Homo sapiens: one gene and its partners. The protein of the gene in region 1 purifies or fractionates together with the protein of each later gene. This does not show direct contact. Each region holds a gene or a part of one and is shown in the gene's direction. Other genes may lie near its edges. The genes, in order: DHX8, CCDC12, CDC40, AHCYL2, MORC2, NKAPD1 and CACTIN.

Region 1 (3,943 bases):
GTGTCAAGCAGTCAGGTCTTCACTTCTCTCAACTAACCTTTTTTCTGACATCACAGGTGTGTAGCACCACTTGTTACAGTCTCTTTCCCATTCCCTGCTGCCCCTTCTATATTCTTTTCTTCACATTAATTTGTTTCTTTGAGTACTTTTGATCACGGGTCGCTGAATTGAGATGCTGCATGTGCAGTGCCCGCATGCCATTTTATTTTTTTCCTGGTACATCTTGAGGTAGCTTGAGGACAATACTAAGTTGCCTGTTTTCCTTTCCAGCGGAAGGCAGACAGATTGCTGCCAACATGAGGGGTATTGGGATGATGCCCAATGATATTCCTGAGTGGAAGAAGCATGCCTTTGGGGGCAACAAAGCCTCTTACGGAAAAAAGACCCAGATGTCAATCCTTGAGCAGAGGGAGAGCCTGCCCATCTACAAACTGAAGGAGCAATTGGTCCAGGTGAGAAGACTTTTATGATGTATTGGTGGGGAGTAGGGTTATTGTCTAAAAGAGGGGTGATATTTTTAAACTGAAACTAACGGGACAAGTATGTGCCTACTTGAAGTGGCTCATCCAAAAGAGTTAAGAAAGAAGGATAAAACTTTCTAAATACTTTTTTTTTAAATGGGGCTGGGCGCGGTAGTGGATGCCTATAATCCCAGCACATCAGAGGCCAAGGCAGGAGGATCACTTGAGCCTAGGAGTTTGAAACCAGCCTGAGGCAACATAGGGAATCTTGTCTCTACAAAAAATAAAAAATTTGGTGGGGCGTGGTGGCCCACACCTGTAATCCGGCACTTTGGGAGGCAAAGGTGGGCGGATCACAAGTTCAGGAGTTCGAGACCATCCTGGCCAACACGGTGAAACCTTGTCTCTACTAAAAATACAAAAAATTAGCTGGGCGTGGTGGCGCATGCCTATAATCCCAGCTACTCTGGAGTCTGAGGCAGGAGAATCGCTTGAATCAGGGAGTCGGAGGTTGCAGTGAGTCAAGATCACGCCGCTGCACTCCAGCCTGGCTACAGAGAGAGACTCTGTCTAAAAAAAAAAAAATTACCTGGGTGTGGTGGTCCATGCCTGTAATCCCAGCTACTCGGGAGGCTGAGATAAGAGGATTGCTTGAGCCTGAGAGGTCGCGGCTACAGTGAACTGCAATCACACCACTGCACTCCAGCCTGGGCGACCAAGTGAGACCCCATATCACAAATGTTTGTGTGTGCGTGTACAGACACACATACTTATGTATGTGTCTGTATATCTTCTTTTTCCTGGGGCCCCTAGAACAGTTTCCAAGTGGGCAGAGTATTGTGTTGCATGGACCAACAGCTCTGTTCAGTAATTAAAAATGAGGATACTCAGTCAATAAACTCATATGGGCAACTCATAGAGTGCTTCGGTACTCTATATTCTGGAGTTCTGATTTTAAGACCACCGAGTCTTCCTTGAGGTAATCAGGTTTACTAGTTTCTAGTGAATCCTTTCAACAATATCTTATATGTATACAAGCAAGTACAAATATATGCACACACACGCACACACATTTTATATGAGTACTGTGTGTGTTTACAGGTGGCAGTGATATTATATACACTGTTCTACATCTTTTTCCACTTAATGATATATCTCAGAGATTTGTGTGTGTGTGTGTGTATGTGTGTGTGACAGAGTCTCGCTTTGTGCAGGCTGGAGTACAGTGGCTTGATCTCAGCTCACTGCAACCTCTACCTCCTGGGCTCAAGTGATCTTCCCACCTCAGACTCCCAAGTAGATGGGACTACAAGGCATACACCATCATGCTCAGCTAGTTTTTTGTATTTTTTGTAGAGATGCGGTCTCACTATATTGTCCAGGCTGGTCTTGAACTCCTGGACTCAAGCAATCCTCCCTCCTTGGCCTCCCAAAGTGCTAGGATTACAGGCATGAGCCACTGTGCCTGGCCTTCTTAAACAAACAAACAAAAAAAATTGCCAGGCCAGGCACAGTGGCTCACACCTGTAATCCCAATACTTTGGGAGGCCAAGGCGGGCGGATCACCTGAGGTCAGGAGTTCGAGACCAGCCTGGCCAACATGGTGAAACCCTGTCTCTACTAAAAGTACAAAAATTAGCCGGGCGTGCTGGCGGGCACTTGCAGTCCCAGCTACTTGGGAGGCTGAGGCAGGAGAATCACTTGAATCCGGAAGGTGGAGGTTGCAATGAGCTGAGATCATGCCACTGCACTCCAGCATGGGCGACAGAGTGAGACTTCATCTCAAAAAAAAAAAAAAAGCCTTTTTTTATGGGCTGTATTATTTGGATAGGCTCTGGTTTATTTAACTAGTCCTATATCCATAGAAACATCGTTGATTGTAATCCTTGGCTGTTACAAACAACGTAGAAATAAGAAATAACTTTTGGGGAAAGATATAGAAATTTGGGAGTTACAGTGGGAAGGAACATTTTTTATGTATCTTTTAAATTCATTGTTGACTTCTTTAACTATATGTGTATATTCCTCTTTTCTTTGGTGTTAGAATATAGTAATTATTTTATTCCAGAGTAATGTAGATTTTAATGACCATATTTATATTCTGTTTAATGACCATATTTATATTCTGGCAGATTTTAATGACCATATTTATATTCTGTTGCTTTCAGGCCGTCCATGACAATCAGATCCTGATTGTCATTGGTGAGACAGGATCTGGAAAGACAACACAGATCACCCAGTACCTGGCGGAGGCAGGCTACACTTCCAGGGGCAAGATTGGGTGTACCCAGCCCAGAAGAGTGGCAGCTATGTCGGTGGCCAAAAGAGTGTCAGAGGAGTTTGGTTGTTGCTTAGGCCAAGAGGTAAGTAGATAGTGGAGTCGCTCGAAAAATACCAGAAGCAAAGGCCCAGGTCTCTTAATCTATCAAATGGAAATATTAATAATACTGCCTTTTTTCAGGTTTCTCCTGAGGGAGAGAGGGTTCCCATTGTCATAATCAGTCTGTTCAGAGTATAGTCTAAGACATACCTTACTATGAGGAAATTACTGTACATCTTGATCAGATTCTTAAGATTATGAGTGAGAGTGACTGGGCTGAAATCTTGCCTGGTGATTGGGAAAAGGAGACATTTGTATCCTAGGTTTTCCCCTTCTCTTCTGCTTTAGGTGGGCTACACCATTCGATTTGAGGACTGCACTAGCCCTGAAACAGTCATCAAGTACATGACAGATGGGATGTTGCTTAGAGAGTGCTTGATTGACCCTGACCTCACTCAGTACGCGATCATCATGTTGGACGAGGCACATGAGAGGACAATTCACACTGATGTGCTCTTTGGATTGTTGAAAAAGGTAACTAGATGCTCTTTAATGACCCCTCTACCTGTTGGAAGCTGAATTCTGGCAGTTGGATTTGAGTACCTGTGTCTTTGGGTAGTCCTTTTCAGTAAGCCACATAATATTTCTCTTCAGACAGTTCAGAAACGGCAGGACATGAAGCTGATTGTCACCTCAGCCACCTTGGATGCAGTGAAGTTTTCTCAATACTTCTATGAAGCTCCCATTTTCACCATCCCAGGTCGAACATATCCAGTGGAAATACTGTACACAAAGGAACCTGAGACAGATTATCTGGATGCCAGCCTGATTACTGTTATGCAGATTCATTTAACAGAACCACCAGGTAAGGGGAAAAAGCAATTTTCCTTTTTGGGAGGCCTAATTTTCCCTCTTAGGCCAAAAGTCCTCATATGGGTATCTTTTTTGCTAATCTTTTTAAAAACAACTTCTAAATATTCATCTCTCTGCAAGCCTCAGGCTTGTATGTTTGAAATGATGGTGGTTATAATGTCATATATAAACAAACTTGTATTGTTTACTTACTGGTCAGAATATGAATGCATATGTTCTGTTATTTGAAGTTTTATTAATATCACCATAGCCCTTGTATAGGACACACATACACACACAGAAAGTAGAT
Region 2 (3,943 bases), on another chromosome or scaffold:
AGCAGTGTTGCTCACTAGAACTTTGTGCAGTGATAGTGTTCTTTAATCTGCACTGTCTAGTACTGTAGCCATGGGCCACCTGTGACTTTCAAGCCCTTGAAATGTGGCTACCGGCCAGGCACAGTGGCTCATGCCTGTTATCCAGGGGTGTCCAATCTTCTGGCTTCCCTGGGCCACAATGGAAGAAGAATTGTCTTGGGCCACACATAATATGCAGTAACACTAATGATAGCTGATGAGCTTTAAAAAAAAAATCACAAAAAATATCTCATAATGTTTTAGGAAAGTTTACGAATTTGTGTTGGGCTGCATTTGAAGTGGTCCTGGGCCTTGGTCTGCGGGTTGGACAAGCTTGTTATAATCCCAGCATTTTGGGAGGTGGAGGCAGGAAGATCACTTGAGTCCAGGAGTTTGAGACCAGCCTGGGCAATATGACAAATCCCCATCTCCACAAAAAATACAAAAAATTAACCTGGAATGGTGTCGTGCACTTATAGTTCCAGCTACTTGGGAGACTGAGCAGGGAGAATTGCTTCAGCCTGGTAGGGGCAGAGGTTGCAATGAGCTGAGATCACGTCACTGCACCCCAGCCCGGGCAACAGTGTGAGACCCTGTCTCAAAAAAAAAAAAAAAAAAAGAAATATGGCTACTGCGACATTTAATTTTAGTTAGTTTACATTTAAACAGCCACACTTGACTCGTGATTGCCTTATTCGACGGTGCATCTCTGGAGGACTTGCTCCCTTCAGCCTGACTTACAAGAAACTGTGTCTCTACCTGAGCTCCAGTTGTTGAGCGCTAAGGGGCAAGTGGAAACCCAGATGACCATCACATCAGCCTTGGGAGCCCAAAGCTGGGCAGAGGGCTTGGAAGTTGGCCATATTCATGGCTGGTATCTCCATCAGATGCTGATTTGGGGCCATCTGTGTATGTACCCTGTGGAGTTAAGTGCTGGTGATTCAGAGTGGTATAGTTGTGATTTACACACTCAAGAAATGGGAGTGCGGGCCAGGTGTGGTGTCTCACGCCTGTAATCCCAGTACTTTGGGAGGCCAAAGTGGGCAGATCGCTTGAGCTCAGGAGTTCAAGACCAGCATGGGCAACATAACAAGACACCATCTCTACAAATATAAGTAAACAAAATTAGCCGGGCATGGTGGCCCGCTCCTGCAGTCCCAGCTATTCGGGAGGCTGAGGTGGGAGGATTAAAAAACAAACAGAAAGAAAAAAATGCACAGTGCAGAGAGTGGGAGCAATGCCAAGGTAGAAGGCATGCACTAGTACTCTCTGACTTGGGAGTACTAGGGAGGGTCCCTGGCCAGGTTGGGGGAGGGTAAAAGAGGGAACCAGAGGGAGGGGCTAGCAAGTCTTGCTGGAGGAACAGAGGCAGTGGGTGAGAGGCCTAGTATGCTGGGTGAGGAGTCAGACTTGTCCGTGTCCTGATCATGTCTCAAGAAGTTGCCTCTATCTACATCCCATGTGGCCACATCCCCAGGCCCAGCAGCCTGGTTGCAAAGTCAGCCAAGGCGATCACTGCCGCCTGTATTGACAGCTTTTGGCAGGTTGGCAGTCATAACATTTGCGTGGCAGTTGTGGCAGAATCGTGTTCCATCCCTGAAGCAGGACTTTGAAGCAGGGTGTATTGCTTCATCCCTGTCTGATAGACCAGGAAACCCTGGGCTGAAGGAACATCCCACAGTCGTGCTTTGAGTTGTTGCTGACCCTAGATTGTCCCTTAGGCTCTGGCCTTCTATCCCTCTACACCTCTCACCCCCAGGTGCTTGGGAATAAGTACCTCCCGGGAAGGAGCCTCCACCCATCACACATATAAACTGTAACCAGGCTGCCAGGTGGAGGCCTAGTGGTGGAGTGGAGAGAATGGACTTTGGAGACAGATCTGATTTAAACCTCTGCTCCATTAATCGCATCTATGGTACTCAGAGCAAGCCTTGAAAAATCTGAGCCTCTCTCTTGTCTATAAAATCGAGATACAGCTTCTGAACTCATCAGTAGCTAGGAGAACAGAGAAAGATGCTGTCTATGAAGTGTCTAGCTCGAGATCTTGCACACAGGCCTTTTATAAACGTGGATGCCTGTCCTTTCTTCTTTACCCTCTTGTAAGTGGGGACATCCAGGTGGTCCTGCAGCCTTCTCCGCTGGGTGACAGTGGGTGGAACTGGCCCGGTTCCAGTGGAAGCAAAGAGGTCCTTCTCCTGCACCCTGGCTTTACTCATCCTAGCCCTAATTTTTTGAAGATGGAGTGTTAGTGCAAAGTGTTAGATTAAGAAGAAAATGGATTTGCAGTCACAGCCGAGGTGGAGTGTGAGTGCCCGTTCTTCCTAAGGACTCAGCTTTTCTGCCCAAGCTCTCAGACTCCAAGGTTGTGGAGGCAGTGAGAGGGAGAATCTTCTGGGTGGGAGATTTGGGGTTCCCAACACATACCTATGGTGAGCCAGCATTTCCTTCTGAGGCCCTCAATATGTTCACGTATGAAATGATGGTGTTGGATTTATCTGAGTTTCTCAGACCTACCTGTTCGTTGGGTTGTCTTGAGAGACAATTTGCAGTCCTTTTTTCTGGCCCTACCTCAGACCTATTGTGGTCTTGGTATATAGCCTATAAATTCATGCATTCTTAAAGTTCCCCAGGTGATTCTGATGAATTTTTCTGGACATCTCTGATCAGTCCCTGGCATTCTCTCATTGGAAGAAGGATACTTTTTTTTCCCTTGGAACCTTAGCTGCCCATGCTCACTGCAGGAACTCTGCAGCTAGCCACTAATAAGTATTTATTGAGTACCAGCTGTATGACAGGCCCTGGGGATACAGCTATGAACAAGACTTCCTCCTTGCCTCAAGGGGCTTCTATGGAAGGAGTGGGAATACTTAGAAACAAGGAACATGGTGTCCCTGTTTATGTGTCCCAGGAACTTGGGAATGTGGTGTGTGTGTTGGGGAGAGGCTGTGCAGCTGCCCAGGCTGGGAAGACCACCACCTGGGAGTTCTGAGACGGGGATGGAGGAGTGAGATGCCAAGATCTAGGGAAGAGCATTCCAAGCTGAGCAAGACTAGCTTGGCATGTTTGAGGAGTAGGAGTAGAGTGAACAGTGGGAGGTATGGAAGGGGGATGAGGGTGGAGAGGGCCTGGGAGGCTGGGCTAGTTAGAAGGGGGCCTTGCAGACCACCAAGGCTGGACCTCAGGCTAAGGGGGTTGGGGAACCACTGGAGGTCTGAGCAAAGCTGACATGCCCTTGGATGACTGTGTGTGGAGGTAGGAGGCAGCTGCAGGAGCCCAGGTGTGAGGCAGTGCGCACAGACAGGGTTCCTGAGATGGCAAAGTACAGGGGAGAGGGGCTTTGAAGGGGAAGGCAAGAGTCTGGCTTTGGCCACATTAAGCCAGAGATGACTGTTAGACAGGTAAGCGAAGAGAGACATAAGCAGGCATCTGGACTAGAAACAGATACAGGATATCAAGCCCTGGGGCTAGACGAGGCCCTCTGGTGACAGAGCTTAGACCACAGAGACAGAGGACTGGGAGATCATTCTGTGCCCTGAGGCTCGCTCTGCAGGTATTTAGCAGGAGTTAGAAGAATCCAAGGAAACTTGGTGGGGTGGGGCGGCATGAGGACAGTGGGGCTGAGAGAAGCCAGGCGAAGACTGGGGATGGGTTTTGGCAAGACAAGGTGATAGGTGAGCTTGGTCCAGCTGTTTCAGGGAAGTGTGTGGTGCCAGTGGAATCCAGGCCAGCTGGGTTGAGGTGCAGCATGCTGGCCAAAGCCTTCCTGTAAATTAAGCCTCCTTTCCACTGCTTGAAGTCCTCACTGGACCCCAGCCGGGACATCCATCCCTCCTCTCAGGAGGGTAGCGCCAGTCTGAGGCAGTGCCCTTATAGCCTTGCTGTCTGAACTCACCTGGTGTTTGGATGCTGGCAGCCTTCTTGCTAG
Region 3 (3,943 bases), on another chromosome or scaffold:
GAGACTGTGTCCTATTGGCACCAGTGGCAAGGAAATGCTTTCTATTTTAGAGTACTAGCAACATTGTTGAGAATTGGATTCAAGGCAGTCAAGAATAAAGCTAGCCTTGAAGCTATTGTATTAATCCACCTTAGATATGCTGAGAATTATGAGCCTTTTATTTTAGTCTAGATCATCATTTTCTTACAGCTTCTGTAATACTTGTTATTCAGAAAAGTAAACAGAAAAGGCTTTCAGTATCAAAATGTTATATACATGGCAGTTTTAATAACAATTCCTTTAAACGTCATTTGTAGTGCTACAAAAGTAGAAACTTTTCATCCTAGAAAATGTATGAAATAGAAAAGAACAATATGAAAATGAAAACTTACCTGAATTAACTCCATCTATAGTTAAGTCTCTTTTTTGATGTAAATATCTTTAAAACTCTTTAGTTTTGAGCGTGTGTGACTCTGTGTGTGTGTGTTCCAAATAATATAACACAAACTGGCAGCACCAAGCTATATTTAATGATATTCAGTGTTTAATATTTAATGATTGAAGCTGTGCGTTTACACACACAGATGTGCACACACATAACCAGCATAGGGCTGTTGTTATTAATTGAAGGACCTTTATTAAATGTAATATTTCCATGTGTTGTTTTTTTTCTCCCCCAGCTATGGGAGGTTTATGGAGAACGGCGCTGTCTGAGAACATTTATTGGTAATGCTTCTTTTCTCTCCAACATAAATCTGGGAAGAATTTTTAAAGTAAGATAACATCATTGACAATAACTTTACTACACCGATAGGAAGTAAACTCTTCATAGATTTCAGCTGAATCTGGAAGGAGGAGTCAGTGTCCCCAGTTAGACAAAGAAAGAGAACTAGGAAGCAAGAGCAGCGGATGCAAAACAAAAATGGTGTGAGACAGCGTGCTGCTGAGGGGATCCACGTACATTTCAGGATTGTCAGAGTATGGGGGATGGTGAGAGACAAAAGCGGAGAAAAGTAGCAAGAGAGGGACCAGAGTATGGAAGACCTCCTGTGCCATTAATAAAGAGTTTAGCCTCTGTTGTGAGGGCATTGGGGAACCATTAAAGAGCTCTTGCCGGAAAGCAACATGATTTGAAGTTTACAAAGATCAAATGGCAATATGCAGGATGATTTGGTAGGGCAAGCCTGGAGGAAGGGAAATTAATTACACAGTTATTTCATAGGTCTGGTTTAGAGATGATGAGCGCCTGAACCAAAGCAGCAGAGAGAGAAAAGAAAGGAACTACGTATTAGAGTTAAAGTCAGTGAGATTTAGTAACGGCATGTGAATGATCACAGTGAGACAGGAATCTAGAGTGACTCCCATGAGGCTGGATGAACGATGGTGCCATTCACCAAGAAGGAACATAAGATGATGGTAAGGTTTTAGATACACCAAATTTGAGCTGCCTTTGGGATATTGAGGTAAAAATGTTCAGTAAGCAATTAGATAGCCAGAGGTCGAGCTTTGAAGAGAGACTGGGAATTGACAGCTAAAGCATAAAAAAAGGATGAGATTGAGAGAACTCCTTGAAGAAAGAAAGAAGGCCAAAGGGAGGACAGCTTTGTGACAAACCAGATTTTTGGTAGAGAAAGGTTTATTGTCTTTGTCAGATTTCATGTGAAGGCTAGTTACTCATTCCAAATTTAACTGTACCACGTTGAAACGGTGTGACTCGTAGTGGCTCTGTTTTTAGATTAAAGTGGGAGTCTGTTCAGCAGTGCTTTATGATTTTAAGGCCTCCCTGCACAAATTAATACTGCCTAAGATGTCACCGCAGCCTAAAGGAAGACTTGTGGAAGGCTCTCAGCTGTGTACAGGGGAACAAAATGTCTCCATCAGATAGAGTGGATTTGGTCCGCATCTGTCTCCCCTCTACTGGCAGACCATTTTTCTGTGGAAAACTGAAATTTTCCTCCTGAAGGAGATGATAGAAGCTCTGACTGGGACTCCAGCTGTAGAAAAGGATGCCTAATTACCATGACACGTACCTCCTGATGGGAGTTCACTGGAGGTGATGGTTTAGAGCTGCTGCATGTGGTTAACAATTTGTGCCATGCTCATTTTGCACAATTGTACGTGTCTTGGTCATGGTGGGGTGGCAAAAATAGGAACATTTTTGCTTTTGTTTAGCCACATTTTATTTTTCCCTGTAACTTTTAAAAGAGTTGAGTGAACTGGCAATATTCATTTTTAAGTAAAGTATAATAATCAGCACCTTAAAATTAGTGTATTATCAAAATATCATCTTAAAGCAAAAGAAGGTAGCCTGGGCAACATGGCAAAACCCTGTCTCTACAGAAAATACAGAAATTAGCCAGGCGTTGTGGTGTGCACCTGTAATCCCAGCTACTCGAAAAGCTGAGGTGGGTGGATCGCTTGAGCCAGGAAGGTTGAGCTTACAGTGAGCTGAGATCCAGCCACTGCACTTCAGGCTGGGCAACAGAGCAAGACCCTATCTCAAAATAAAAATAAAAAACCATGCAAGCTAATATAGTTTTCAGAAAGTCTCCTACATTCTGAATCAGTTTCTATGAAATTTGGTAATGTGATCACAGAAATATACAATTATTGAACAAGGGCTACAGTTTCCTGAACTTTAGGTTTGGGGCACTTTGTTTTCACTTGCAGCCTGGTGGACATTCTGAGAGTGAACCTCCAAAATTCCAGCAGCCATTTCTTTCACTGGCAATAATTGGTCTTTTACATTTCCATAAATTCTTGGCTAGCTAGTCATCACTTGTATGTACTGCATATTAAGTAATTGCTATGGCAGACTTAAAAGAAAAGTTAAACCTTTTCCTCTTGGTTCTTAACCAAGATGTTATGCATCAGAATCACCTGAGGAGCTTCTTCAAGGGGAAAAAAACGCCCACATTCTGAAGCCCACACATAACATATTCTAAGTCAGTAAATCAGGCGGTGGCATTCCAGTGATCTTGACTCACAGCTGAGAACCACTGCTTAGTGCTGTTTGTCTTTATGGTGTTAATGTTTTAAGAGAAGAAGATATATGATACTTCACCTCATTGCTGTTTCTGTTGACTCCACCTTTAGGTCACAGTAAGGCTGTTAGGGATATCTGCTTCAATACTGCAGGAACACAGTTCCTCAGTGCAGCCTATGACAGGTATCTTAAGCTCTGGGACACTGAGACAGGTAAGAGTTCACTTATGCTAATACACATTCATCTTACAAGTTATTTATATTTGAAATGGTGTGAGTAGTCTTTTGTGGCAAAATGGCACCTTCTCTAACTGCTGATTCTCATACCATTCACTGTCAGCAAATATCACAAAATACATTTGTAAGTCGAAACTGAGCATGAGTAGCTCTTTCACTGTGAAACTTGTTTCCACCAGATAGATTTTATAAAGCAAACGTACTGACAAATAAGCAAAGTGGAAATCTTGTATAGGCCATCTAATTGATTTTTTTGTTCCCCTACATCACCTAGCACTGTGCATTGCACATAACAGAAGTGCAATAAATGTCTAATGAACAAAATTAAATGTATTTGCGCAAATTGATTAAAATGTAGGTCTCAACTTTCACAGGCCAGTTGGTTTTATATATTCACAGCCATACTAATTGCTGTTTATTAATTGATTCACATTAATATGTTGTGGCTAGTATAATTTTATGTAATTATAAAAATTATCTTACTATCTTATTGTCTTACTGTCATTACCCTTACTGCATCTGAAGGGTAATGATAATAGTTAATGTTTATTAAACATCATTTAACAGGCATAATTGCTAAGCACTGATATTCAGTGTCTCCTTCAATCTTAATTTATCCCTATGAGGTAAGTACTATTATTATATTATAGATAAGGAAACTGAGGCTTAAAGAGCTAACTTTTTCAGGGTCACACAGCTAATAAGTAGCAGACTTGGGTTCAAACGAAGCTCTCTCTGATGC
Region 4 (3,784 bases), on another chromosome or scaffold:
TGAATCCTCAGCAGTGGCCGTTTTTCCTCTTGTCCAGGCTCACGAGTTAGTCCAGGGATTCCATACTCCCTATTCCCTGGAGTTTTCTGGAATAAATTTTCAGCACCTGCTTTTCTCAGCTTGGCCCTTCCCCGGGTGAGGCCGTTTGGAATTAACATGGCCAGTGTTTCACACAAGATTGGGTTCCCAATCTTGACCATCACTATCACTGCCTTCTTTATATAAAGGCTAATAAGGAAGGAGTGTTATTTATGGCTTTGCCAAGCTACATCAAGAACTCAGCTGTGCTGTGCCTACCAGGGGTCTCCTTTCTTACCCAGGACTCCTTTCTTCTCCTTGAATATTTATGTCCATTTTAACACTTCCTGGTTGCAAGAGGGATGTGCCTCCATTATTTCCTCCACAGTTTTGGTATTTGTCAGACATTTGTTCTGCTGTCTTTCTAATCCAGCCAACGTCTGCTCAGGAAGTGGGGCCAGCTCCACTGGGACCCATAGTTTTACTTCCTTGTCATTTGATTGGATAGTTTCCAAGGAAGCCCCTCCAGATTGGCACTATCTCAGAAAAGGAGAGCTTGTTGTGAAACACTGCTTCCTGAAACTTCCTGCTATTGCCTAAAGCTACGTCTGAAACTGAGTAGGGAAAGGCATACTTTTCCAGGGACTTAGGGGGATAGGCTTTGGAAATGGGACAGGTCTTTCAGACTCACAGCTTGATACCCTAACAAAGCAGAGTATATTTATTTGTTTCCCAGGAAGGCCATTGCAGTTTGACTGGCTGAGGGATACAGAGATGAAATTGTAAACTGTATCCAGATTATCAAAGCTAATTTGACTAGTTTGAACCTCGTCAGACATTCATTCCTTTGGCCATTGCCATGGATGAAACCGAGATCTGCAGTCTGATCTGTGGACTTCTCTGCTGGCATATCTTTTATGATTTAACCTCTTCCATTTGATGATTCTGTATTTCAGAGTCAGTTTCTTGAGTAACTCCAGTGCTACAAAAAGAATTAGTAATGTGGTGTGGGCAGCGTGACATTTTATGTCCCACCCAAAAATTGGATTCCTTTTGGAGACTGATCTGTTGGTCTCAGGCATTTCATTAGGACCAGATTGGTTCTAAGAGTTAGTCTGGACTGGCCCTAGGAAACTTGAATTAAATAAGCCTCTTCCCCTTACCGATCCTTTTTAACACTCTCAGGTTTGTTTGTTTCCCACTTTTTTCCTATGCTGGTCTGCCTCAAAGTCTCAAGACCAAGGTGACTCAAGATAACACCAGACCACGCATGATCACCAAAACCTTCCCATCCTGATTCTCTTCTTCTACCTCTACCCTCTCCAACTTCTCCTGGTCTTCACATATACTCTCAAAGCTAGTCTGAAAGTGACCTTACTTTCGGAAGTAGGGAAGTGGAACTTTGGTAAATGACTGTTTGCCTCATTTAATAGTATACAGGCTCAGCCCATAGACTACAGTTCTTCAGAGGCCATATGTCTCAGCAAGTACTGGTTATATTCTTTTTTTGTAAGGAAGATCATAAATGCTAAAAATTCCACTAAGCCATTCAGTTCTTCCTTTTGCCTACCTAGTCCTGATTTTTGTATTAATTGGTTCCCTTTAGCAAGGGATTCAGATCTTTGTACCTTATCTTATATCCAGAGCAGATTCCATTTGGCAGATAGATGGTCTCTAGCCTATTGTATTCTTAGACCAAAAATCATAACCTGCTGTTTCTCAGCAAAGCCTTGCTCTCTGGAGCTTACTATGTGCTGGTACTTAAAGAGTACATTCTGCCTTGCTGTAGTGAAGAGACCCACTCCAAATAAAAAAGGGGCCACACGGGGCTTCTAAGTTAGGTTGCCAGTGTTGCTGCCCATGATGAGTTATTTGCCTCTGAGTTTCAGATGACCTCTCTGTAGGGACACTGTGTTATCAACCATTAAGAAGAAAGAACCACAAGCCTCCCAAGTATTTGGGTTCTATCTTAGGGTTGAAATCTGGTCATTATTCCCTCTACCCTTGGAATCAGAGCAATGTGTCTTCTTTCCTCCAACCTCTTACCTTAGATGCATCCTGGTTATCTGGAAGCATGGGAAAGAAGGCTACTTATCTCTTTGTATGTGGCTCCAGTCTGTGAGGATACATAACATTTTCTCTACAATGAATCTGTGCTAATATTTTGCCTTCTTTCTTTCTTTTCTTTTCACCCTTAGAGACAGGGTTTCACTATGTTGCCCAGGCTGGTCTCAAACTCCTGGGCTCAAGCAATCCTCCTGCCTCAGCTTCCTGAGTAGCTGGAACCACAGGTGTGTGCTACCGTGCCTGGCACTTTTTTGCCTTCTTAATGGAGATATTCAGTTTTCTTTTTTTCATTTAAACAAAGAAAAAAAATGTATCTACTCTACCTTCCCTCTGCTCTCCTCCCTCCCTATCCTACTTGCCCATATGAGCACGGCTCCCCATGGCCACATACTCCTGCAAAGCTTTTATGCTGCTTCGCTTTTCTCTAAACAGATCTGATATTGCTGCTCCTGTGGTTTTCTCAAAATTAACTTTGCCGTGGTTTTTAAAAAGGAATCAAAATGCATTGTTGCATTAAGCTTTTTCAATAAAGGAAAATTACGGAAGGAAAATAGGCAACACCAGCAAATTATATGTGGACAGGTTCTAAACTCTATATATACATATATATATATATATCTATATATCTATATACGTAATCATCTAGTTCTGTCATCTTACTGAAAGGAATAACACTTCTAAAGATCACCATTTCTGAGAAGTTCTTGGAAATCTTTATGTCTAAGTGATTGTATTAGATCAGCAATAATGACTATGTAATCTCAAAAAACAAATAAAATATTCTTAACATGGACTCTTAAGGGTATTTCTTGTTTCTGTGAACTAGAAATTCAGAGATGAGAGAGATCTCTGGGCAACAAACTAGAGATCCTGCTGTAGGGCAAGGATGTGAAAATGTTACCAATGGGCATGTTTGACCTTAGGATGTGAAAATGTTACCAATAGGCATGTTTGACCTTAGTTAATAAATATCATGTTCCCCTCCTACCAGCCAGCATACACGCGCATCCTGGCTGTGTGTGTAAAGAACCTGTCTTCTCAGAACCACCACCCTGGGGAGTCGAGGACTGTAGGCTTAACTCAGAGAAACTAAACCATAGTTCTAGGTCCCTGACTCCCTTTTAGTTGAAAAATGCAGGAAATCAGCATCCCCCAGTTTGGGACCAAAGGACCTTGATAACTAGGACCTGATTATATCCAGCCAAAGGGAAGAAAGAAGTGCATCAGGCAGAGATTTGTCTCTAAATCAAGTTGCCTGATTTAACCAAAGGATAATCCAATTGCCTATTCTTTCTCAACTGCCAGTAGGGTAACCATCTTTGGGTAGCTTTCTGATAGCCACCTTCTTTAGTTGACTACCTAAACTAGTTCTGCATCCTGTATGCAAGATGTTTTCTTTTCATAGCAGAATCTTCTGCCACTTTGGCTTCTGATTATTTAGATTAAGGGACACAGGGCTAGAATCGTCTGGGCAGTCAGTAATCCTCAAAATTAGTGCCATTCCAGTTAAGAGGAGGAGAATGCAGCAGCTAGCAATGAAGCCGGTCAGCTCAAAGGATTTGCTCCCCTGCAGTAGGGCTTGACTCCTCATTTGTGAAGGATGGAACCTTGGGTGCCTGGGTCTTTATTTCAGAATCATAGGGTAAGCCCAAGCTATCCACTGCTGCACAAGTTTCTCCACCTCACAATATTGTGCAAA
Region 5 (4,633 bases), on another chromosome or scaffold:
TGAAAGAAAAGGATTCAGAATAGAAGCCAAGCAGGGGACTGTTGTTAACCCCGAATATCCATTATGCATAGAAACAGCTCACATATCCCAGGGACTCAAACAGGGCTTCAAAATGGTTGTGAAGGGTCCCAAATGACATCTAGGCCTCAGTTTCCTCTCTGTAGCATGAAGAAATTGTGATTCTTAACTCTTCTGGGTCACAGCCCCCTTGGAAAACTTGCTAGCGATGGATCATCATTCCCCTAAAACGCACATTCCCACAAATTCCCATCATTCCCCCAAACCGCACATTCCCACAATTTCAGGAAGTTTGGGGATCCCCAACTCCAATCCAAGGTTCCCAGGTTCAAAACCCAAGGATTGGGGAACTGCTAAGTTTTCTTACAACTCAAAAAAAATTATAAACAATAACCATCCTTTACGTACACCCACGCTTTATAGTTTACAAAGCGATTTCAACCCCACACACATTGATAGGCAGAGGAGGAAACTGAGGCGCAGACAAATTACAGAGTGACTCGCCTAAGGTCACTCCGCCAACTGGTGGCTAGGCCCGGAAGAAAACCCAGCTCTTCCGACTCCGGAGCTCGTCTCCCCACCCCGGGGCTGCCGCCAGAGCTCCCGCCCCTCACTAAGGCGGCATAAGGAGGAAAAGGCAAAGTAGAAATCCCACAACCAACCATCCTCCGGCCCCCTCCTGCCCCCCCAACTGGGTCCTTGCAGGCCCCGAAGGGTGGCGCCAGGCCTCCAAGCCGGCCCCGGCCACCCCCGCCTCCCCGGCCGCTCCAAATCCCGCGGCCGCTGCCGCCGCCGCCTCCCCCGGAGCGGGGCGGAGCAGCTGCCCGCCGCCGCCGACCACCCGGACGACTCCTCGTCGAATCGCAAACGCATAGGCCGCCGCCCGAGTTCTGCGTACGAGAAGAAAGACGCGGCGCGAGCGCCAACGGCCACCGGGCGCGCGCCGCGGCGGCCGGGCCTGCGCCCCAAGAGCTGGATGCCAGAGCAGGAGAAAGAGCCGCCAACCGATCGCTCGATCGACCGCACGCCCGTTCCTTCGCCCTACCAGACCCGGGAGGGGGGGAGGGCGCGCCAGGGCTTCTTCGATTTAGGGGCCTGACTCCCCGGCGACGAGACAAGATGGCTCCTCCGGTCCGCACCGCAGCTACCGTCCCGGCTGCGTCGCTCGGCCCGCCCCCGGTACTGTTTCTTTAAATGGCGGAGAGGGTCAGGAAAGCAGGAAGAGAGGCGCACGCTGTCACGTGACAGGGGCGGGACCGGCCAACCAAGATCCGGTCACATGGGGACACGCAGCCCGCCAATCAGGAGGCTGTACATCAGGGCGGGGGCGGGAGGAGCTGCAGCTTTGTGATTGGCTGAATGCTCCGCGGAGGCCTCGGGGGCTTGGGGCGTCGGGGAGTGTGCGAGGTGGCCGGGGCTGTGTGCACTATCGGAGACAAAGCGGTGGCTGTGGTGTCTGTGACGGCGGCGGCAGAGCAGCTCTAAACGCCGAATTTCGTGTTGCTGAATCCTGTCACCATCTCAACTAGCGCGGCGCGCGGGCGGCGCGCGGGCGGCGGCGGAGGCAGCGGCGGCGGCGGCGGAGGCGGCAGCAGCACATGGTTCCAAGAGCGCTCTGCGGCTGTTGGGTTCCAATTCCGCGGGGAGGGACAAAGGCAGTTGTGAGATCCGGGTAGTGCCCGGTCAGGTGGTGCGCTCGCCACTGCCCTCGATCCGGTCCTTGGAAGCCGGGAGTAGCTCCTCTTCGTGGGGAGGCGGCCACGGGACCGAGGCCCGGGAAGGGCCTGGGAGGCTGAGGCTGTTGTCTGAGGGACGTGGGGGCGGGGCGCGGCCTGCCCGAGGTGCTGTGGGCGGGTCATTTGTGAGGTGTTTATGTGGGCCAAGTGTGAGGTAATCTGACCACCACCCTGAACTGGGTTTGGTCCGGCTTTGAAAAAAGAAATCGTGAGTGCCTAGGAGCTTTTTCACTTGGGAGGTGGTGAAGCTGCAACTTGCGCCATATAACACTCCGTCGACATCTTGGTCTCCGGTCTTGGGCCTGTTTAAGAATCCTGGCATCACGTGTGGCGAAGACATGGCTGATCAGTTTTCTGACAGAAGTGGGTAAATTTCCGCGTTGGTAAATTTCCTGACAGGAAATTTCGGGGAACCAAAAAAGGCTGGAAGAACATGAAGATGGAGCAGTCATAAACCACCCACTCAAGGACCATCTCCTTCAGGACCATCCACACGAGACTCAGATTGTCTGAATTGAGCTATCGCAACTTAATGCTAAAAGCTCCTTAAAGCTACAGATTTATGACATAGTTCCTTCCAAAATATTACATCATAAATCATTGAGAAGATTAAAAAAAAACACTTGAAGAAATTGTAGTTTTAAACATCTCTGCATATATTTTGGATAGCTACTAGGTTACTTTAACTGTCATTAAGGAGCACAGACTTACTGAAGCTTTACTGGACAGAATCCTGGGAAATCGATATCATTATAAGGTTATATTTCCCAGTTAGCGGGTGAAGGGCTGGAGACCTTATTGCAGTCATGGCTTTCACAAATTACAGCAGTCTGAATCGAGCTCAGCTAACCTTTGAATATCTGCACACAAATTCGTAAGTATCCTCTAGGTGCCACTGAGGTAACCAGTAACTCGTTCCTTGATATTATATGGAAATCGTTTCCCCAGAAAATTTTGCTTTTTCACTTTTTGAGATGTATCCCACTGGAGTGAAATGTGTCACTGGATATCTTGAGCTCTGTATTGAAGAACTGAGATCAGTGAAATACTTGTTGCTAATCCAGAAGAATCTGATTTTTGTTTATTGGATCAAAATTTTCTAAATGCAAACTTTAGTTATTTGAAGTCAATATGTTGAGTTGTTTCATTCAAGTGTTTATAGGAATCCAACAAATACTGCTCTATTGGATCGCCAAATGTTGGACTATTTTAGTATCAACCGTTTCCCCTCTGTAGTGACAACGTCCTAAACAGTTAGGTTTATAACAAGTGTTTACTTTCTAACAAGAAAACAGAAGACATTTAAATGACAACTTTCAAGAAGAAAATTTTTATTTTTTCAGAAGTTGGCATTATCTTCCTGGCAGATTGCTCACATCCAATATTATTTGTATATGCTAAACAGGAAACGGCAACTTGTTTATATCTCTATTTAGATAGTCTTTCCCCAAAATTTCCACAGAAACATACAGTGTTCATGGTTCTTGAGTTCATGAAGGAGTAATCTAATCACTCCAACATGGTCTGGAATGTTTCAGGTTTAATCCATATGCCCACTCTCTTGGAGGCTGTCCAGTAGCGTCAAAACTTTAGTGTTTTAATACATTCACCTGTTACTTTTGAGATGAAGGTAAGTGTTCTAACATTCTAGTACCTGGAGAGGAGATGAGCAGCTACATGAATGGTCCAGTCTCTGAAGAACCCACTTCAGAGTCGAGAGTATAGACTTCCATTATGTAGTAATAGTACAATGGTTTTTAGCTTTTGATGGAGAAGACAACATGTTTGTGATATCATAATGTCTGTAATATTTCTATTTTTCCTTTAAAGGGAATAAAATTTTGCCAAGTAGTGAAGCAAACTGTCAAATGGTGAAAGCCTGTTTTTATTTTTTTTAGGAAGTTTGTTATTTTTTTGAGAGACGGAGTCTTGCTCTGTTGCTCAGGCTAGAGTGGGGTGGCGCAATCTTGGCTCACTGCAACCTTCACCTCCCAGGTTCAAACGATTCTCCTGCCTCAGCTTCCCAAGTAGCTGGGACTACAGGCATGCACCACCACGCCCAGCTAATTTTTGTATTTTTTTAGAGAGACGGGGTTTCACTATATGTTGGCCAGGCTGGTCCCGAACTCCTGACTTCAGGTGATCCACCCACCTTGGCCTCCCAAAGTGCTGGGATTACAGGCATGAGCCACCATGGCCGGCCTGTAGCAGTCACCTAGGTTGAATTCTAACACTTAAGTATGATGACCCTGAAACACACTTGGGTGAGGTTGCTGATTAGTGATTATTCAGCTAGTTGATAGCATAGCCTTGGGAAAAAACTTTAGTGTCCTTTTTAATGTTTGAACTGCCATATTAAGAACAAGCAGTTGAAGGCCACTTAAATGTTCATGGATGACTGTGTTTGATAAATGGTTATCTCAGCTCTGAATTTTGGAATGATGGTAAGTCTGGAATTACAGATTTTATGATAATCTTGGAAGACCATGAACTGGACTTCAGAATTTCAGTTCTTGTTCCAGCTTCACCAAAGACTTTATGGGATAATAATAGTAACAACAGTTAATTGCTTCATATCAGTCACTATTTTAAACATTGTCCAAAGCAATCTTTACAGGAAGCCTTTGGGATAAGGATTATTCCTATTTTGCATTTGAGGAAACTGAGGTTCAAAGAGATTAAATTACATGGTAATGGCTATATAGCTGCCAAGTGGCAGACTTAAACGGTGCCAAGATTTAAGACAGTGGGATTTATCTGGCCACAGTAGTTGGTGCTTTTAACCATTAGGCAGTGCCTACTGTAGTCAGTTTTACCTTCAAGAGCCTATTTGCTTGTCTATAAAGCAAAGGGTATACTTCACAGTTTAAAAGTCTTCA
Region 6 (3,943 bases), on another chromosome or scaffold:
TGAAGAAAGTCAAAGATACTATTGGAGGCCAAAGAATGAAATTTCTGGGACACTGGAAGATGATTTTCTTAAGGCTAAATCCTGGAATAAAAAGTTCTATGATTATGAAGCAAACATGCCAGACAGGTTTGTGATTAATTCCTGTGAGCATTAATATTTGGCCTGAGAACGTGTACTTATCAAAATTAATTGTCCCCACAAAAAACTTGTGTACAAAAGTTCATACCAGCATTATTAATAATGGCCCCAAAAAATAATGGCCAAGTAATCCAAATGTCTGTCAACTGATGAATGGGTAAACAAAATGCGATATATCCATACAATGGAATATTATTTGGCAGTAAAAGAAATGAAGTACAGATACATGTTACAACGTGGCCTTGAAAACATCATGCTAAGTGAGAAGGAAGAAGCCAAGTCACGAAAGACCGCATATTGTATGATTCTATTTATGTACTATGTCCATACATAACTGTATGATTCCATTTATGTGGTAGGCAATTCCATAGAGACAGAAGGCAGATTAGTGATTGCCCTGGGCTGGAGGCACTACACTTTGAATGCCATGATATGTGAATTATACTTCAATAAAGTTGTTATTTAAAAAAAATAGGCCAGGTGCTGTGGCTCATGCCTGTAATCCCAGTACTTTGGGAGGCCGAGGCGGGCGGATCACGAGGTCAAGAGATTGAGACCATCCTAGCCAACATGGTGAAACCCCAGCTCTACTAAAAATACAAAAATTAGCCGGGCGTGGTGGCATGCGCCTGTAGTCCCAGCTACTCGGGAGGCTGAGGCAGGAGAATCACTTGAACCCAGGAGGTGGAGGTTGCAGTTGAGCCGAGATTGCACCACTGCACTCCAGCCTGGCAACTGAGTGAGACTCTGTCTCAAGAAAAAAAGAAAAAAATAATAATAAGGCTGGGCGCGGTGGCTCATGCTTGTAATCCCAGCACTTTGGGAGGCCAAAGCGGGCAGATCCATGAGGTCAGGAGTTTGAGACCAGCCTGGCCAACATAATGAAACCCCATCTCTACTAAAAATACAAAAATTAGCCAGGCATGGTAGCATGTGCCTGTAGTCCCAGCTACTCGGGAGGCTAAGGCAGGAGAATCACTTGAAATCGGGAGGCGGAGGTTGCAGTGAGCTGAGATCACGCCACTGCACTCCAGCCTGGGCAAGAGTGAGACTCCATCTCAAAAAAAAAAAAAAAAATTGTCCCCATGTAGACAGCATGATATTATGAAGTGTTTTTGGAAAAGTGCTTCATAGCTAAAGAGCAGAGTGTAAGAGTTCGTTAGTGTTTCTTAAGGAAAGCAATGGCAAGTTCTCTTACAAATGGACAAAATAATCTTGTATGTCTGAAGTGATAGTGTACAGTACAGGAAATGTAGCTGTTACTGAGCTATAATGGGGGCTTGGTTCTACCATATCTCTACTTTGTGTTTATGTTTGTGTATGCATGTACTCCAAAGTCTTTCTAATGTTGCTTTAATTTCCAAAAATGTATGCATTGCTTTAACAATACATGTGATGTGTCATATTACAGATGGGGTCACAGTGGTTATAAAGAGTTATACCCTGAAGAATTTGAAACAGACAGGTAAGGAAAATAGGCTTACTGAAAGAAACTAAGATGGTACAAAATCTGTATTATAAATTGATTTCTTAACTTTTACGAAGAATATACTTGCCATCAAAAATGTAGCTAGAGAAACAATAGGTGATTTAGTTAGGAGGTGATCCCTGTTTTCCCATTCTCTGGTTGATGTTTGGCATGTCTGTAAGCATTTTGGTTTTTATATATAGTATTCCATACAGTAACTCAGTATGGCAGCTTAGAATTTTTACCTTCATTTTAAAGATGAGGAAACAAAAACTCAATGAGAATATTAAAGTGTTAAAGTATACATTAAAGTGCTTATTTAAAATTCAGATGTTAACCTCAATTTTTTAATCTAGAATGCAAAATATTAAAATAATACGCTTTTTTTTTACATAAAAGCTTCTATTTTTTAACTTTTCTTATTAGTAGTGATCAGCAAGATATTACCAACGGGAAGAAAACATCTCCCCAGGTAAAGTCATCTACCCATGAATCCCGCAAACACAAGAAGTCAAAGAAATCCCACAAAAAAAAGCAGAAAAAAAGGTCACACAAAAAACAGAAGAAAAGCAAAAAGGAAGCCACAGATATAACAGCAGATTCCTCGAGTGAGTTCTCAGAAGAAACTGGGGCTTCTGGTACAAGGAAAGGGAAACAACCACATAAACGCAAGAAAAAATCCAGGAAAAAGTCTCTCAAAAAACCTGCTTTATTCTTAGAGGCAGAAAGTAACACTTCACATTCAGATGATTCAGCATCCAGCAGTTCTGAGGAAAGTGAGGAAAGAGACACTAAGAAAACCAAAAGGAAAAAGAGAGAGAAAAAAGCCCATACCTCTGTAGCCAACAATGAAATACAGGAGAGGACAAACAAACGCACAAATTGGAAAGTAGCTACAGATGAAAGGTCTGCTGAGAGCTCAGAGGATGACTAAATGGGAAACACTTTTGTTTTCCACATGACTGTGGATATTTACAGTTCTTACTCCTTGTGGTTTTGCCAGTGACTCTTGTTCAGCACGGGGCCTGAGGTCAGAGCTGTCTTGTGCCATCTGTATGTTCTGACAGACGTCTTGTCTTCTATTTTGGCGTTAAGCTTGATCCCCTTTTCTTGTTAAAAGGGAATCTGGTATTTTGTTATGAAGGTTTCTTGAAGAGATTATTTTTTTTTGCAATTAATTACGTTTAGTGTAGAGTGCATATACAGCAAATTAAAGGACCCAGAAAGCTGGATCCAATAGTGACCTGGGTACACCAATCGGAATATTGAATTTGGGGAAGTCAAGGGCTGGGATCAAGAGGTGGATTGGAACTAATGCCATGTAGGATGGTATGACAAGGCAACACTGTATTGCTCTCTGTTTATATAGCAGGTGTCACAACTAACTTGTCTTTAGCCTTGGTGCTTTGATCCTTCTATATTTTGACCCCACAGGTGTGGTCCGGTTTACTTAATCAGGACATGGGCCTAAGAACAAACCTTTTCCCTTCATGATAACATCCATAGACAACTTATTAGAAGGGACTAGAGTTTTTGCAAATTTCCCTGCTGGATGGGGCCTATAGCTATACTTAGTATATGCCTAAACATGGTAATTGGATAGTAAATGGTTTTCTAGTTCCATTGCTGTATATTTGCCTAAATGGACTTGTGTTCAAATTATTTCTTCAATTGTCATAGATAATCCTGTACCAAATGGGGAAGAATTAGGAAATAATCATGTTGTCTAATGGTACTCTGGATTCAGGGCAGCAACTGCCATTTAAATGTTGTCTTGTTCATTTCTAAATCTGTTCATGAAGTTTAGGTTTTCCCTGAAACTAAGTTGAATTATTTCCAAAATGAAACAGGCTTCTCAGGGACATATCCACTTCTTCCCAGTCTGCCTTTGGATTAAAGCACCAAGCAGAGACCACATTAATTCCCTTTGCTATACTGTGATCCTTAGTATGTTAATTCTTAAGAAACCAACATATCACTGAAAGAAGGCTGGCAGAACGCAAGTGCATTTTTTCACTGTGGGAAGAAAGATCAAGTGACGTATTATTTTTTCCTGGTTGTCACTTAATGGGCTGAGTAAAAAGCTTGAAAACTCAGACTTTCGGTCTTGGTTCTGCCACTCATTGGTTATGAGGAGGCCCAGAGCAGGTAAGTTCACCTTCCTGGCCTTACTTTCCTGATGTGTAATACGGAATTACTTCACAGTAGCATGACAGTATAAGACACCAGCAGTAGATACAACTATGATGACATTCCATGAGTTGGTATTTTTAGTTCTAACTGCTAAATTTGTTCTCTTTACGGGACAGATTTCTAATAAAGTGCTTGGTCTTAAAA
Region 7 (3,943 bases), on another chromosome or scaffold:
AGCCGGAGCCCCCCGCGGCCCAAGTGGCACTCAAGAGATGGGTCCTCTCAGTCGGACTCAGGAGAGGAGCAGTCACGGGGCCAGTGGGCTCGCCGGCGACGGCGCGCACGCTCGTGGTCTCCTAGCTCCTCAGCATCCAGCTCCGCGTCTCCAGGGCGATCCCAGAGCCCCCGGGCGGCCGCGGCTGCCCTGAGCCAGCAGCAGAGCCTGCAGGAGCGGCTGCGGCTGCGGGAGGAGCGGAAGCAGCAGGAGGAGCTGATGAAGGCCTTCGAGACGCCCGAGGAGAAGCGCGCACGGCGGCTGGCCAAGAAGGAGGCCAAGGAGCGCAAGAAGCGGGAGAAGATGGGCTGGGGTGAGGAGTACATGGGCTACACCAACACCGACAACCCCTTCGGAGACAACAACCTGCTGGGCACCTTCATCTGGAATAAGGTGGGCCCCGCCGGGTGGTGGCCTCTGTCCCTGTAGCATTTCCACTGTTTCTGGAGACCCCAACACTTGAGACACTCCCAGCCTGCCCTTGATCGTGCAAGAGTTGGTTTTACACACACACGCATAAGCAAGCTTCTGCCGCTATCAGCTTTCTTTTTTGACACAGGGTCTCGCTCTGTCGCCCAGGCTGGAGTGAAGTGGTGTGATCTCGGCTCACTGCAAGCTCCACCTCCCGGGTTCATGCCATTCTCCTGCCTCAGCCTCCTGAGTAGCTGGGGCTACAGGCGCCCGCTACCACGCCCGGCTAATTTTTTGTATTTTTAGTAGAGACAGGGTTTCACCATGTTAGCCAGGATGGTCTCGATCTCCTGACCTTGTGATCCACCCGCCTTGGCCTCCCAAAGTGCTGGGATTACAGGCGTGAGCCACCACGCCCGGCCAGCTTTCTTTTTTGACTCAGGGTCTCGCTCTGTCACCCAGGCTGGAGTGCAGTGGCGTGATCGTGGCTAACTGCAGCCTTGACCTCCTGGCCTCAAGCGATCCTCCTACCTCAGCGTTTTGACTTGCTGGGACTACAGGCACCACCACCATGCCCGGCTAATTTTTTATTTTTTTGTAAAGATGGAGTCTCACTATGTTGGCCAGGCTGGTCTCGAACTCCTAAGCTCAAGTGATTTTCCCACCTCGGCCTCCCAGAGTTCTGGGATTACAGGCATGAGCCACTGCGCCCAGCCCACCGTCATTTTCTTGCCATTAACTGTGTCTCTTGCGGTGTAAGCTTCAGCCATTCTTTGCCCCGAACACCAGCCCAACCTGAAACCTATCTAGAGAGCCAGCTCTTGGCATCATGTACCCAGGACAGGGTTCCACAGTTCCAGGCGCTCTGTCGTCTGAGCTGGTTCTTTCGTTCTGCGCCTGCCATTTAGCCACCAGTCACACCAGTGGCATAAGACAACAGAACTTATCATCTCTTCGTTCTGGAGTCCAGAAGTCCAAAATCAAGGCGTGGGCAGGTGTGGGCAGGACCCCACTCCCTCTGGGGGCCGAGGGGAGGCCCCTCCTGCCTCTCCCAGCTCCAGTCATGGCCGGTGATTCCTGGGCCCTCCCTGGCTTGCAGCCGCAGAACCCGGCCTGTTCCTGTGTTGTGTGGCGGTCTGCCTTCCCGTCTCTGTCTCCATACGGCCTTCTGCTCTGTGTGTCTGTGTGTAAATGTTCCTCTTCCCATGAGGACACCAGGCATTGGATGAGGGCCCGCCACCTCCAGGATGACCTCATCTTACCTACGTCTGCAAGACCTCATCACTTTTTTTTTTTTTTTTTTTTTGAGATGGAGTCTCACTCTGTTGCCCAGACTAGAATGCAAAGGCGCAATCTCGGCTCACTGCAACCTCCGCTTCCTGGGTTCAAGTGATTCCCCTGCCCCAGCCTCCCAAGTAGCTGGAATTACAGGCGGGTGCCACCACACTCAGCTAATTTTTGTATTTTTAGTAGACAGAGTTTAACCATGTTGGTCAGGCTGGTCTCGAACTCCTGACCTCAAGTGATCTGCCCGCCTTGGCCTCCCAATATGCTGGGATTACAGGTGTCAGCCACCATACCTGGCCAAGACCTCATTTCACATGGGGTCATGATTACAGCTGCAGGGGTTCAGACGGGGATGTGCCTGTGGGGGACACAGCTCATCTGAAGCAGCATCCACTTGTGGAGGGGGTGGAGCAGGCAACGTGTGGGCTGGGCCGACTGCACCTGCTCGCCGGTTGCGCAGTTGGGAGCTGTGGGGTCTCCAGGTGGCTTCTGCCCGATGTCGTCTGAGAACACAACGAGCTCCTTCCGCCTCGGGGCCCTCACACTGCCGCGCCCCTGCCTGGACATGCTCTGCCCCTTCCCCGGCTGTTCTCTTCCGTCAGGCCTCAACTGACACATCCCCTCTTGAGAGACCCCTTCCTGGCCCCTTGCTCCCCAGACCCCCCAGAGTTCTTTATTGAGGCACACACTGCTGCCTGGCACTTCATCGCCACCATGTGCTGTGCACCTGCGGTGTGCTGGGCACCACCGTGAGCTCTGGGCGGGCAGCCATGGAGGAGGAAGATGTGGTCATCGTTGACGCCTGTGGAAGCGGCCCCAGGCTGGGTTGGATAGACCACAGAGTGGCCCGGGTGTCTGGGGGTGGTCCCCAGCCAGGCAGCCTGTGTCCCTGGAGGCAAGTTCTGGGCGGCAGGGGTTCCTGGAACCCCCTCATGGCGACGGGGCACCGGGAGCCTGAGGAAGGTGGTCGGGAAGTGGGGGCTCCGCGCCAGGCTCTCAGACAGCTGCTGGAAGAAGCCAGCTTTGAGGGTCTCCAGGCTGGGACAAGCCCATCAGTGGCCACCCCTGTGCCCCGCTGTGTGGGCGGGGCCCCATGACCCCACAGGTTTGCTTTCAGAGCTGCTGCTGCCCCCACTCACTGTTCCTGCCCTGTCCCACGTGCAGTGGGGGACCCTGACTTGCTGAGGGCGTGGCCTTCACGTCCGAAGCACTCAGACTCCCGGGTAAAGCGAGTCAGCAGGCCCCGAGCAAGGCTCTTCTGTTGGGGGCTGGGGTGGCCCCGAGCAAGGCCCTCCTGTTGGGAGTTGGGGCGGCCCCGAGTGAGGCCCTCCTGTTGAGAGTTGGGGTAGCCCCTTCTTACCCTTTGCATACATCTCACTCCCAGTGGGGGCTCCATGTCTGCACTGAATTGGATGCACTGGGTTTCAGGAGTGTTAAGGAGGGGGTGGAAGACGTGCAGTGCTGGCAGGTCACCTCTCTCTGCAAAACAAGGGCCCTGGTCAATCTCTTGGACGAAGGAGCTGAGGAGGGGGGCGAGGGGGCGGGTCTGTGCTCAGGGCAGGTGTGCCTGGTGCTTCCAGGCCCTGGAGAAGAAGGGGATCAGCCACCTGGAGGAGAAGGAGCTGAAGGAGCGGAACAAGAGGATCCAGGAGGACAACCGGCTGGAGCTGCAGAAGGTAGGCACCCTGCCAGCCCACTGGGCAGGGCCCTCCCTTTCCAGGGCCTGGAGGCCCGCCCCCTTTGGCAGGACTTGAGGGGCTTAAGTGGGAAGTCCTGGGGGCTGGCTTCAGGTAAGGCTGGATCCAGGGGCTCAGACCATGGCCCCAGGAAACTGTTTCCCTCCACCTCTCGGCTCTGCTGGCCTCGGGCCTTCACTCCCACATGCTCCCTTCAGGGTGGCCGAGAGGGCCCCAGCTGATCTGAGCTGCTGAGTCTCGGGCAGGAGGGCCCTCTCCCTTCCCAAGGTCTGTCCACCAGCCCAGGCATCTCCGGACCAATCCCTGTGCCCAGGGCAGCTGGGTGAAGGCTGGGCCCCCATCATCACAGCCCCTCCCCCCGCAGCCCTGCAGACCGCACGGTCCCCGCTGCCCTCAGCCTCCTGTGCCTGCAGGTGAAGCAGCTGCGGCTGGAGCGGGAGCGGGAGAAGGCCATGCGCGAGCAGGAGCTGGAGATGCTGCAGCGCGAGAAGGAGGCAGAGCACTTCAAG

What was found.
Region 2: the proteins of DHX8 (region 1) and CCDC12 purify together in Homo sapiens (affinity purification with mass spectrometry; 4 studies listed by BioGRID and IntAct, with this or other methods). This does not show direct contact.
Region 3: the proteins of DHX8 (region 1) and CDC40 purify together in Homo sapiens (affinity purification with mass spectrometry; 3 studies listed by BioGRID and IntAct, with this or other methods). This does not show direct contact.
Region 4: the proteins of DHX8 (region 1) and AHCYL2 purify together in Homo sapiens (affinity purification with mass spectrometry; 3 studies listed by BioGRID and IntAct, with this or other methods). This does not show direct contact.
Region 5: the proteins of DHX8 (region 1) and MORC2 purify together in Homo sapiens (affinity purification with mass spectrometry; 3 studies listed by BioGRID and IntAct, with this or other methods). This does not show direct contact.
Region 6: the proteins of DHX8 (region 1) and NKAPD1 purify together in Homo sapiens (affinity purification with mass spectrometry; 4 studies listed by BioGRID and IntAct, with this or other methods). This does not show direct contact.
Region 7: the proteins of DHX8 (region 1) and CACTIN purify together in Homo sapiens (affinity purification with mass spectrometry; 4 studies listed by BioGRID and IntAct, with this or other methods). This does not show direct contact.

What each region holds. Positions count from the first base shown.
Region 1 is NC_000017.11:43,504,374-43,508,316, forward strand, and holds part of DHX8 (ATP-dependent RNA helicase DHX8), read left to right. Parts: intron 1-270; coding exon 271-452; intron 453-2,629; coding exon 2,630-2,824; intron 2,825-3,129; coding exon 3,130-3,315; intron 3,316-3,435; coding exon 3,436-3,646; intron 3,647-3,943.
Region 2 is NC_000003.12:46,966,596-46,970,538, reverse strand, and holds part of CCDC12 (coiled-coil domain-containing protein 12), read left to right. Parts: intron 1-3,943.
Region 3 is NC_000006.12:110,214,627-110,218,569, forward strand, and holds part of CDC40 (pre-mRNA-processing factor 17), read left to right. Parts: intron 1-659; coding exon 660-705; intron 706-3,075; coding exon 3,076-3,177; intron 3,178-3,943. UniProt on the Homo sapiens protein: Required for pre-mRNA splicing as component of the activated spliceosome. Plays an important role in embryonic brain development; this function does not require proline isomerization.
Region 4 is NC_000007.14:129,427,334-129,431,117, forward strand, and holds the end of AHCYL2 (adenosylhomocysteinase 3), read left to right. Parts: 3' UTR 1-2,878; downstream 2,879-3,784. UniProt on the Homo sapiens protein: May regulate the electrogenic sodium/bicarbonate cotransporter SLC4A4 activity and Mg(2+)-sensitivity. On the contrary of its homolog AHCYL1, does not regulate ITPR1 sensitivity to inositol 1,4,5-trisphosphate.
Region 5 is NC_000022.11:30,965,817-30,970,449, reverse strand, and holds the start of MORC2 (ATPase MORC2), read left to right. Parts: upstream 1-1,675; 5' UTR 1,676-2,560; coding exon 2,561-2,628; exon of another isoform or gene 2,629-3,384; intron 3,385-4,633. Other genes in the region: TUG1 (taurine up-regulated 1), read right to left, coding at 632-1,093. UniProt on the Homo sapiens protein: Essential for epigenetic silencing by the HUSH (human silencing hub) complex. Recruited by HUSH to target site in heterochromatin, the ATPase activity and homodimerization are critical for HUSH-mediated silencing.
Region 6 is NC_000011.10:112,080,433-112,084,375, forward strand, and holds part of NKAPD1 (uncharacterized protein NKAPD1), read left to right. Parts: coding exon 1-126; intron 127-1,549; coding exon 1,550-1,603; intron 1,604-2,032; coding exon 2,033-2,540; 3' UTR 2,541-3,943.
Region 7 is NC_000019.10:3,620,177-3,624,119, reverse strand, and holds part of CACTIN (splicing factor Cactin), read left to right. Parts: coding exon 1-432; intron 433-3,317; coding exon 3,318-3,413; intron 3,414-3,847; coding exon 3,848-3,943. UniProt on the Homo sapiens protein: Plays a role in pre-mRNA splicing by facilitating excision of a subset of introns. Required for the splicing of CDCA5/Sororin, a regulator of sister chromatid cohesion. Involved in the regulation of innate immune response.